Linked DNA regions of Homo sapiens: region 1 is linked to region 2. Evidence: fine-mapped expression QTL. A gene starts in region 2. The other region holds a variant in brackets. All regions are shown on one strand. Distances are from middle to middle.

Region 1 (5,362 bases), 27 kb before region 2:
TATTTCTAAACTAAAGGAAAACAGCATTAAATAGGAACTACGTGGCTCATTTCATGAGTGGGAGACAGTGTTTTAATGGTTTTTAAATATGTCTTCCTATCCCTCCCCCTACTCTAACTTACCCCGTTTAACCCACTAACCAAAAGATTAAACACCCATTTAACCAAAAGGAATGATTTCCTAGCCTTTCTTCTGCAACTAAAATGTCTGTGGATACCACACTTTGCTTGACTGAGATGTGCAGGTGAGTGAGAAAGGGAAGAGGCTCCCAGAATCCACTCCCTTTTTGTTTTCTACCCTAACTTCTCAGTCAAGTCACTAAGTACATGGTAAGTTGGAATGTGGGCCATGGCACTGTAAGACTTGGCCTGTCACAGGAAATCTCTTTTACTTCATTTCAGAGTCTCAAAATGATCTTGATATTTGGTCTAGTCACTCGAGAAAAATTGGCATTGGTGGCCCAACAGGGGCCTGAGGTGGCCGGCTGGAGATGGCGGTCATTTCCTATCCAGAGCAGTGATATTGAGCAGATGGGGGCTGCCAGCCGGCTGGCTTCTGGATAGGCGTCCGTGTCAGGAGCGATAGGCTGCGAAGTCGCGTGGTGGGGCATAGGGCTGGTAATGCTTGCGGGTGGGCCCGGGGCGGCGGGGAGTCATGTTCATGTAGTCACTGTGCAGGAGCCTGCTCCTCTTACTCCTCACCTGCAGGAAAGAGAAGTGTCAGTATGGAGGGACAATGTCATGGAAGGAGTTCTAAGACTGTGGGCACAACTATTCATAATATTAACTGTCAAATGACAGAGACACTAAAACACTAACCTTTTTTGAGCACCTTGGACTTGGGTAATGACTAATCACACCCAACTACTGACTCTTCACATTGAACTTGAAAAATCTCAAAGAAAGTATTTTAGAGAAATGCATCCCTGTTACTCTCAATGCTGTCATCTGACCTGAATTAAAAATGCACACTAATTAACATATCCACTGTTGATATGTAAATACACTTGAAGGCCCTTCCTCCTTTGACTAGGTTAAGCCTACCCACATTGTGATCTTCTTACATTAGCATTTGCTTAACAAGCTGTTTTTCCATAATTAACCGAAGAGGACTTTCAACTCCTCCAGAGTCTGTAATAATCACAAATTTGTAAAGGTGGAGTCCAAACTAATGGCAATTTACAGTTCTAGACAACTAGTACATTCCTATGTCTTTATGGGTATGTATTTCTACACTCATCTCTCTTTCATAGGCTTGGCTCCATCAGGATGAATTTCCACCAGAAGTGAGGGAAGTAAGGGCAATAGTTTCACCCACCATGAATCTTAGCAAAATTTTTGACTAAGGGTTAGGAACATCATTTCTGAATCAATGTGATAGTAAAATTCTACATTTCTTAACAAATGACCCAGAAAACATCTAAAAACAGAAAGCCATCAGATTTCTGGATTCAGAATTCTCTATTATGAAAAAAGTGCCTAGTTCCTGGCACACAGGCTGATACCTAAGTAGATAATGCTGTACATGAATGACATGATACCTGAATGAATAAATAAGTGAATGATTTCAGCCCTGGTTTTGTTTCCATACACTCCTGCCTGAGCACTTCACACCTTCCTTGTCAAAGGGGCATGAGTAAGTGCTAAAGAAAGGTTTGAAAAACGCTGACTTCCATGTTACTAAACACAGCTAACATGTTTTAAGTCCTCATCTTCTTCAACTCTCAGCAGTATTCTATACTATTGATAACTCTCTTCTTTTTGTGATACTATTTCTCTTTGCCATCTATGACATCCCAGTTTTTATCCTACCTGTCTTGTCACTCCTTCCCTGCCTCCTTTGCAAGCTCATCCTTCTCTAACCAGCCGTTAGAATTTCTCACTGCTTGGTCCTAGGCCTTCTTCTCTATCCTCTTTCCCTAGGCAATCTTATCCACATTCACAGCTTCAATTACCACCTACTCACCCAAATTTATATCTCTGGACTAAACCTCAAAGCCACTCTAAACTCAACATGTCTAAAATAAAACTCAAGATTTCCCCCAAATGCTGTTTTTTTTTTACCAGTGTTTCTCATCTGAGTGAATGACACTACCATATATACAGCTGCCCAAGACAGACCTCCTAACCTCATCCTTGACACCTCAAGCTCCCTTAATCCCTGTCCCAGGAGACATTTAGTGAAGTCTAAAAACATTTTGGATCATCACAACGGGGAGGGATGCTACTGGCATCTACTGGGTAGAGGTCAGAGATGCTGCTAAACATCCTACAATGCAATGAAGAATTGTTTTGGTTCTACATCCTTTCTGTAAATGAAAGACTAGAGCTGTCTTGAGCACAAGATCACAGCAGGGCAGGGGTGAGGCCGAGGAAATGTCTGTCCCCAGATGAGTGTAGAAAACAGCTGATAACCTGGGAAGCATTTTTAGTACTTACTCCAACCCTGAGGACTCCCTTTGCCAAACCTCCAAGTGTCAGCCTCTGCCTCCGGACACCCAAACCAAATCATAGCTGGTAGAGAGGCCACAGCAATAAAGGTGTCTTGATTCTCAGGTTCTTTACATTGCACATAAAATAATGAAAGGTCTGTTGCAGTCAGCTCCCATGCTTATCCTCAAGTGATTGTCAGATGGCAGACTTACTTATTATCACCCTAACTCTAAACACAGCAGTGGGATGAAAATGACAGATGCATGGCTGGGAACAAACACCACGCAGAACCTACAGCACCCATGTGCATTGAGTATGTGTGCATATGTGTGCAGGAAGTACCTACCCTATGTGTCTGTGTCATCTCCACCCCTTCAACAGTGAATGTCAGCTAATGATATGTAATTTCTGGACCATTCCTCCTTTGCCCTTCTCCCCATGCCAGCCTTACCCACTTGTTTCCTGGGAACAGCAGCAATACACAGGGCATATGCAAGGTAATCTACTTAAGTACGTGGTCTTCAAGAATCTACTGGATTATTATAAAAAGCAGACACTACCTGTACACACACTATCTACATTCCTCACATTATGATCTGCAGTGGGGAACATAATGTTTTTTAAAAAGATTTCTTTAGGAAAACGGGCAGCTTTACCAGCACAGCTGCATGAATGGAGAATTGAAAGACAGTGACAGGTGCTGGCCTGTGACAGCTTGACCAAAGGGAGCTCTTTATTTACTCAAATGTCAACATCAGGTCAAGAACTGAGATAGAATCTGCAGCTGCTCCCAGAAACCCGCTCAGCCTAGAAACCCACTCAACCCAGAACTGCCTACAGTAGCATATCAGGCCCTCAGGAAGTTCCGGAAAACAGCAACTTACATCAAGGCACGCTGCAGACCAGCCAAAAATAGGATCTCAGAAAATTACCCAGGAAACAGCTAAACTCCAGGGATCCATAATGGCCTAGATGCCCAACTCAGCAAGGTACTTGTTGCTTAAATACCAACAGCAGGAAAAGATGAGCCCAGAGTAAAAATACTA[T/C]GTTATTCTACGAAATATAGACAAACTTGTATTTATACTCTTTTGGTAAGAGAGTACAAAGACCCAGGTTTGAGATGCAGATAAGTGGTAGTTTTTATTGGGTAACCGAATTGACTACAAGAGGCCACAAATGACAGGACTGCCCAATTCACAGGGGGTCTGTAAGACAAAGTAAAACAAAAATAAAATTTTTTTAAAACAAAGCAAGATGAATCTCACTAGGAATTAGTAGTACTGCCAAGGAAAAACCCAGTGTGTCTATGATGTGTCTGAGTTGAAAGTGAACGGTTTAAATTCATTGAAAGTGAGAAGCTGCTTTTGTCCCTTTGGGTGACTCAAGTCACTCAACAAATTGATGTCTCATTATAGTAACTGACATTCTAATGAATATTTATAATAAGTTTTCAATAATGAGCAGTGTCCTCTGGCCATTGAAGGTTAAAGTAATTCCCAAAACTACTTTCTGCAGAGCTAGTAAATTACTTTGACCTAGGTCAGCATATCACAGGGGAATGCCTTTCCTGGAGGGGTATCCAAAGGGCCACTGCACCTGGCCTTTAAGTTAGAAAGTTGAGATTCCCAATAAGAGGATTGAAAAGCCATATGGTAGGCATAAAAGCCAATGGCCAGAGATTAAGAAGAAACAAGAACTAAGAATTCTAAAAACTCGAAAATTATCAGCAAACACCAGAGGATCAAAGTTAGAAGGTAAGTTGGATGAAGATACCAAGATCTGGAAAGGTGAAAGTAGTCAACTAACATCAGAGGCAGAATTCAGGCAACATTTTACAATACCAAAGCCCCACCTTCAGGGTTGGGCAACTTGCAGAAGGCAAGCCAGGCAAATTCTTAAGATGATACCTAGTATAAAGAATTTCCAGGAACAAGCAACCACTTTGTTTCCTACCCTGCGGCAAGTACAGAGTAAGCAACAGGCAGCCTGACAAATGTCCATCTGAGCCCTAGGGTCTTCTGAACTGCAAGGAGCATGTGGGGAACAACTGAAAGGTAAGCTTTGGCAATAGGCCAAGAAGAGTCTAAAAGAATCTAAGACTGGATAATAGGAAGGCATGGCTGTGGATCCAGGTCTGTACCCGCAGTCACCAAGCTGACAGTAAACAGAATGACTTCATATGATATGGCTTTCAGAAATCACTGACCCATCTATGAATTAGGTACATATACAGATTATGCCTTAAAGATGAGTATCATACTTCAGGCAGACTCATTTAAATCCTTAATTTGACCTCTCTGGAGGTTATCAATTCATCAATCCAATAAGCATTCATTAAGCACCAAATGTACTTAATATCAAATGGAGAATATCAAGAGAAATAGTCTTTTGGAGACTATCAAGAGAAATAGTCTTTTATGTTTGAGAATACATTTCTCATTGAAGAAATGACTCATCCATGCATGTAACTTCTAGAAAAAAATTCAAAGACAACATGGAGTCAATACATTCTGTACCATACTATGTACCTAAGAAGTTTCTGAGTAAGAACAAGGGTCACTCAGGGGTACGTTCTTAACTGTAGGTGCGTTCATCAAAATGTGTTCAAACCCAGGCCAAAAATTCAATGTTGAGGAAGGTAAAGAAAAATACACCACATTTATTACGTAAACATTTGCAAAAGTTAGTACTTCAATTCAGTGGTGAGAGCTCAGAAAATTCTAACTCCCATTATAGTTTCATAATGACAGCACCATACTTGGCCTCACACAATTCAACTGCTTCAGAGGAGAAAAAAAAATATGACTCAGATAAACAGATCTAGTTTCTTTGCTAGGTTTGAATACACAATTTCAGTAGCCAAGTTTCTCATGATTTTTGATCAAGCCAACATTGTCCATTGGCTTCAGTTGCCTAGCTTCCCAAGTTGC
Region 2 (5,367 bases):
TAAGTTTTCTTACTGGAAAAGACTGTAAAAGTGTCCCCTTCACTCCCATCTCTTTCCTTCTTCATTAGATAGCCACTCAGTATCAAATGCTAAAAGTTACTAGAAAAGTGAATTGGCATTTGAAAAGTAAATATATGTCAAAGTAGAAAACAAAGGCCCTATGTGTGTGAACTCTCCAACCACTTATCTAGCTAGTCCCCTTTTAATAAATGTTCTAAAGAAAACATACAAAGTTTTGAGTCTTACCAAAAACTCTTCAAAAGAGAGTGAATAAGTTGATGACAGATAGGTGTCCACAAAGCACATCAGAAAAGTATTTAGTGTACAATTACCAATTTTAAATAGTTTTCAGTCAGGGTAGGCTTCCCTTGACTGTCTAACAAATTAAGTAATTTTAAATATTCTTTAAGTTTGAGAGATCTCTTAAAAATAAGGTTTGACCTTTTTAAAATAAATGTTAAAGATTCTTGTAGAATATATTTGGTAGCTGTAAACGCTTGGTACCAGATCTCATTGCCAACTCATGTCTTTCATTATATCAACACGTTTTATAAATATACACAATTTGTGCTCACTGGTACGTCAGACCATAAAATAAACGGGTATATATGCAACTACTGTACCTCTGCAGATTGGGAAATTATACTCTTTGGGCTATGTACACTTAATGTTTAAGAATAACAACAAATAATGCAGTCTCTGTACTGCCAAAATAAGAAAGAAAATTGAGGATACTGGCTTTTCAATGTATCTTTCAGGGAAAAATAACTGTCCTTATTTAAGCATGACTGTTGACCCCTATCAGTCCAGTTTTTGAACCAAGCGGGGGCCTTTTTCTAACTCTGAGAACACGTTGAATGAGCATCTTACTCCAGCCCACCCAAGTAACAAATTCTTTCTGTTAGGAATTGTGCTTGTGATTTTCCGAAGTTAATTTAACCCTGGATTTACCTGAGTCCATGAAATTACAAATCACACCATGTTAGATGGAATAGCATAATAATCAACAACACCGGCACTGGAGTCAGACTAAGGTGGTTCAGACCCTGCCTCCTATAGCTGCCACCTGTACATCCTTGGGCAAATCCCTTAATGTGCCTACCCCTCAGTCTCTTCATCTGAAATGAAGTTAACTGTAATACCTACCTTCTAGTTACGAGAACTGTGTGCTGCTCAAAGTGCTAGATGTATTATCCTCCTCATCATCGTCATTGGGAACTTAAAGAATTTTAATCTAAGAAAATACATTTTGGCCGATTGTAAAAGAAAACTAATTTATTAATATTGGTGTTGTAGCAGCTTCTGTGGTGACTCCAGAATTCATGTTGGAACTCATTCAATTCAGGTAGATAGAGTAATTACAGTTCACATTTATCTTGAAGCCTGACTGAGCTAAGCCCTTCGCATGGATTATTTCATTTTACCTCACAATGACCTTGAGGTGAGGTTTATTATTATTCCCACTTTACAGTTAAGGAAACTGAGGTTTGGAGAGTTTAAATAATAGCTAAGCCTAAGCTTACCTAGTGAGAATTGGACCTGTGTTAGGAACATAGGCAACCTAAATTCAGAGCTTCCAGAGCCAATCTACTTACAGCAGCTTTCTTAAATTAAAAAAAAAAAGAAAGAAAGAAAGAAACGATACATAAATTAAAAATTATTGGCCGGGCATGGTAGCTCATGCCTGTAACCCTAGCACTTTGGGAGGCAGAGGCAGGTGGATTGCTTGAGCTCAGAAGTTTGAGACCAGCCTGGGCAACATAGTGAAACCCCATCTCAATTTAAAATAATAATAATAATAATAAATTCTTGGGACACTATCAACTAATAGCTAGAGAAACTAATAGCTTAGAAAATTTATTTCCAAGGGACTTTTGTTAAGATACTATATTGTAGTCTGAGAATCAATGATTTTCAAAATAACACATTGCCCTATTACAGCAAAACTACACTTCAAATGTTCAAATTTCACACATTGTTAGAAATTTAAAATAAACTAAGCCAATTGGAAGACCTCAAAAAATATTTACAGAAAGAAAGACATTAACATTGTTTACCTGTTACTTGAATTGAAGGGAATAAGTTGAGAGCCAAGAGCAGCCTGAGCATCTTTGTCCTGACGATGGGCTAGGGTTCCAGCCCCTCCTCCCCGAGGAACCCGAAGTGTGAGGGGAACTGAAAGACGCACCTGCCAAGGCCTGAGAGTCTCCGTCATCCACGGCCACCACCACCGCCACCATCCCCTTAGGGCACATGATCAAGGCACTCAAACCACAAGGCATCCTGACTGCAGCATTTCACACAGGATATAACGTTGTTTTGATGACTTTAGACTTTTACTTCTATTTTTAAAGACTTTTTTTTTGTCACTGAAAAATAGTCGGTCACTACATGATGGGCTTATGGGAATTATTCTTTATTGATGGATATCAAGAGTTGTGTAAAAGGGGTGCTTGAAATCCAGCAGAGATTAAAGGGGAGACAAAGTGTTCTTAAGAAGGAACAGGCCGGGTGCAGTGGCTCACGCCTGTAATGCCAGCAATTTGGGAGGCCAAAGTGGGTGGATCATTTGAGGCCAGGAGGTCAAGACGAGCCTGGCCAACATGGTGAAACCCCGTCTCCATTGAAAATACAAAAAATTAGCCAGGCATCATGGTGGGTACCTGTAATCCCAGCTACTAGGGAGGCTAAGGCAGGAGAATCGCTTGAACCCAGGAGGTGGAGGCTGCTATGAGCCGAGATCATGCCACTGCACTCCAGCCAGGGCAACAGAATGAGAAAAGAAAGACAGAAAGAAAGAGAGAAAGAAAAGAAAAGAAAAGAAAAGAAAAGAAGGAAAGAAGGAAGGAAGGGGAGAGAGAAAAAAGAAAGGAAGAAAGAAAGAGAGAGAAAGAGAAAGAAAGAAAGAAAGAAAAGAAAGAAAGAAAGAGAAAGAAAGAAAGAAAGAAAGAAAGAAAGAAAGAAAGAAAGAAAGAAAGAAAGAAAGATGGAAAGAAAGAAAGAGGGAGGGAGGGAAGGAAGGAAGGGGGAGAGAGAGAAAGAAAGAATAAAGTCTCTAGCAGAGGAGAGATTTTCATAGGATGGGGACAGGTTGTGTCAAAAAGATAATGGTAAGAATTCTACTGAGGAATTGGGAAACATCTGCATAAACGTTTAAAGGAGTTACAAATATTAGAAATGTAACATTTGTGTAGGACATAAGGTAGCCCTCTGGAGCATTTAGCACACAGTGCTTGATTTATGTCAAGCCTCCTCCAACTCACTTCTAGGAACTTTGCAAAACCCATTCTACGTGCAAGCAGCCAGCCAGCTGAGTATCTGGGGGAGGTTCCCTAAGCAAAGGGAAAGTCAAAACAACATTCTATGTTCTTAGTGGGACAGTAAGGCAACCAAAAGCCCCTTGGTGTCTCATGCTCTCTATGTCCCTCAAGGTTAAGTAATAGGGCACAAAAGGAGGCTCCGTGGCAGGATTTCTGAGATTCATAACCACCACCCGACTGCACCCTTCTTCAACTCCCAGGCCCTTTGCAGAGAGGGTTATTCCACCAGCACGGCCAACTGCTCTCTTCTTCCGGCACCTACGTCAGTATCTTGTACTCAATGACTTCTTCAAAACTTTTCCAGTAATTTTTTTCTTCTTTTTGATAATCTAAGCTTTGTGCAATTACTCTAGTTGGGGGTTTTGTGTATGTGGGTTGTTTTAAAAGATAACTTGTATTGCTTTTTATTCTGACTATAAAAGTAAGGCATATTTCATTGAGAATGTTTAGAAAAATTATAAGCATTAAAACAAGATTCATCCACATTCTTACCACCCTAATATAAACACTGCTAATATTCTGGTCCACTGCCTTCCACCTGTTGGTCTGTTAAGATTTTTACATGTTTAATATCATGTTTTACTTATAGTTTTCATCAGATATGTACTATTATTTGTTATATCTTGAACATTTTCCCATGTCATTTAAGTATCTTTATAAACATTATTTGTAATTGATGCATAATATTCCATTCTCTAATTATATCATAAATTGTTTAACAAACCCCTAGTGTTGTTACCTTTTTTTCTTCGCTATTTTAAAATGCTACAGTCAAACTCTTTGATGACCTAGCTGTAAGAGGAGGCAGGCTTCATGTCCCTCCCTCCTGATCTGATAAATGACAGATCAAAAGTATTTCCTGTCCTGGTAGACCTTCTTTGTTCACACTTCAATTTTCCCACAAACACAGTCTTTGTGAACCCCTCTTACTAACACATCTTTTGGTCCTTTGGAGAAATTTGTCCTTGGAAATGATTCACTCACACTTCTGAACTATAGGTAAGTGACAAAGCTATGCCCTGAGTCCTGGAGAAGATTCACTTCTAGAATTTGACACAGTCTTCCTGGCTCTGATCCTCTATCCAGTTAGGGGAACCCATGCCTTCCCCAGGGCCTGAAGTCTATCTGGGGGAAAATTTACAGATGGCAAGGTGACCTTTCCTAAAAGGTCATCCATATTCTAGAGCCACCAGCCTACCCAGATCTTAAAACAAGAGGCTCTGAGACTCATTATACATACTGAGAATATACACAGAAGAAACAAAGATACCCAGTAGTTTTCCATGATCAACAACAAAAGGCTAAGGAGTGAGTTAATAACTGTCTTCAAGCATATTAAAGATGACTACATAGCATCTAGTTAATACTATGTAAATAGTAGTAATCGGGTCAAACTTAGCTGAAAAAGAAACAGTTCACTCATCTGGCCTAATTCCCTTATCTTGCAGAGAAGGAAGCTGCAGCCCAGAGAGGTCAGCTCATTTATACGAATTCACAAAACAATAATTAAATATTATTGGCCTTATTATTTGATGAGCCATATTTAATTTTCTTTCCATAGAATAAAAAGAAACACAAACTTTGACATTTGCCTTCCTATGTTTTAACATGTATGACACTAAAGAAGCAAACCATTTCATTAGAATCCTTTCACATTTGCTTTTGAAATCCAATAGCATTCACATATACCAAGAGGTAGAAATGACAGAAATAAAATAAGGACCTTAAATCCGGCAATACACAGGATACTGAGACCCTACAACATTTTCAGTAAAAATAATAGCATTTCCATACTAAGAACTTTACATTCCAGATCTCATTTAATACACAACCTGTGAGGAAGATTATTATTATCTCCATTTTACAGATGAGAAAACTGGTCTGAAGTGGGGTTAAGAATTGTCAGAACAAAAGAATGTCATTTTTCACAGAATTTGAAAAAGCAATCCTAAAAATCGTGTGGAATCCAAAAAGAGCTGAATAGTCAAAGCAATCCTAAGCAAAAAGAACAAAGCTTTGAAGTATCACATTACCTAACTTCAAATTA

Evidence for each region. PIP is the estimated chance that this variant, and not a neighbour inherited with it, causes the effect.
Region 1: its variant is the best candidate, but not a certain one, in a credible set for the expression of CD28 in blood mononuclear cells (TOPMed, PIP 0.76).

The regions. Positions count from the first base shown.
Region 1 is chr2:203,730,123-203,735,484 of GRCh38, reverse strand. CD28 (CD28 molecule) reads right to left here. Exons shown (of 4, transcript NM_006139.4): 4 at 1-701. The coding sequence ends at 573. Among named protein-coding and RNA genes, the nearest start is that of CD28, 26 kb to the right of the region's middle. The variant T/C (reference allele first, on the strand shown) is at 3,479.
Region 2 is chr2:203,703,439-203,708,805 of GRCh38, reverse strand. It overlaps CD28 (CD28 molecule), which reads right to left and starts at 2,167. Exons shown (of 4, transcript NM_006139.4): 1 at 2,058-2,167. The coding sequence starts at 2,109. RefSeq lists an enhancer at 2,138-2,287.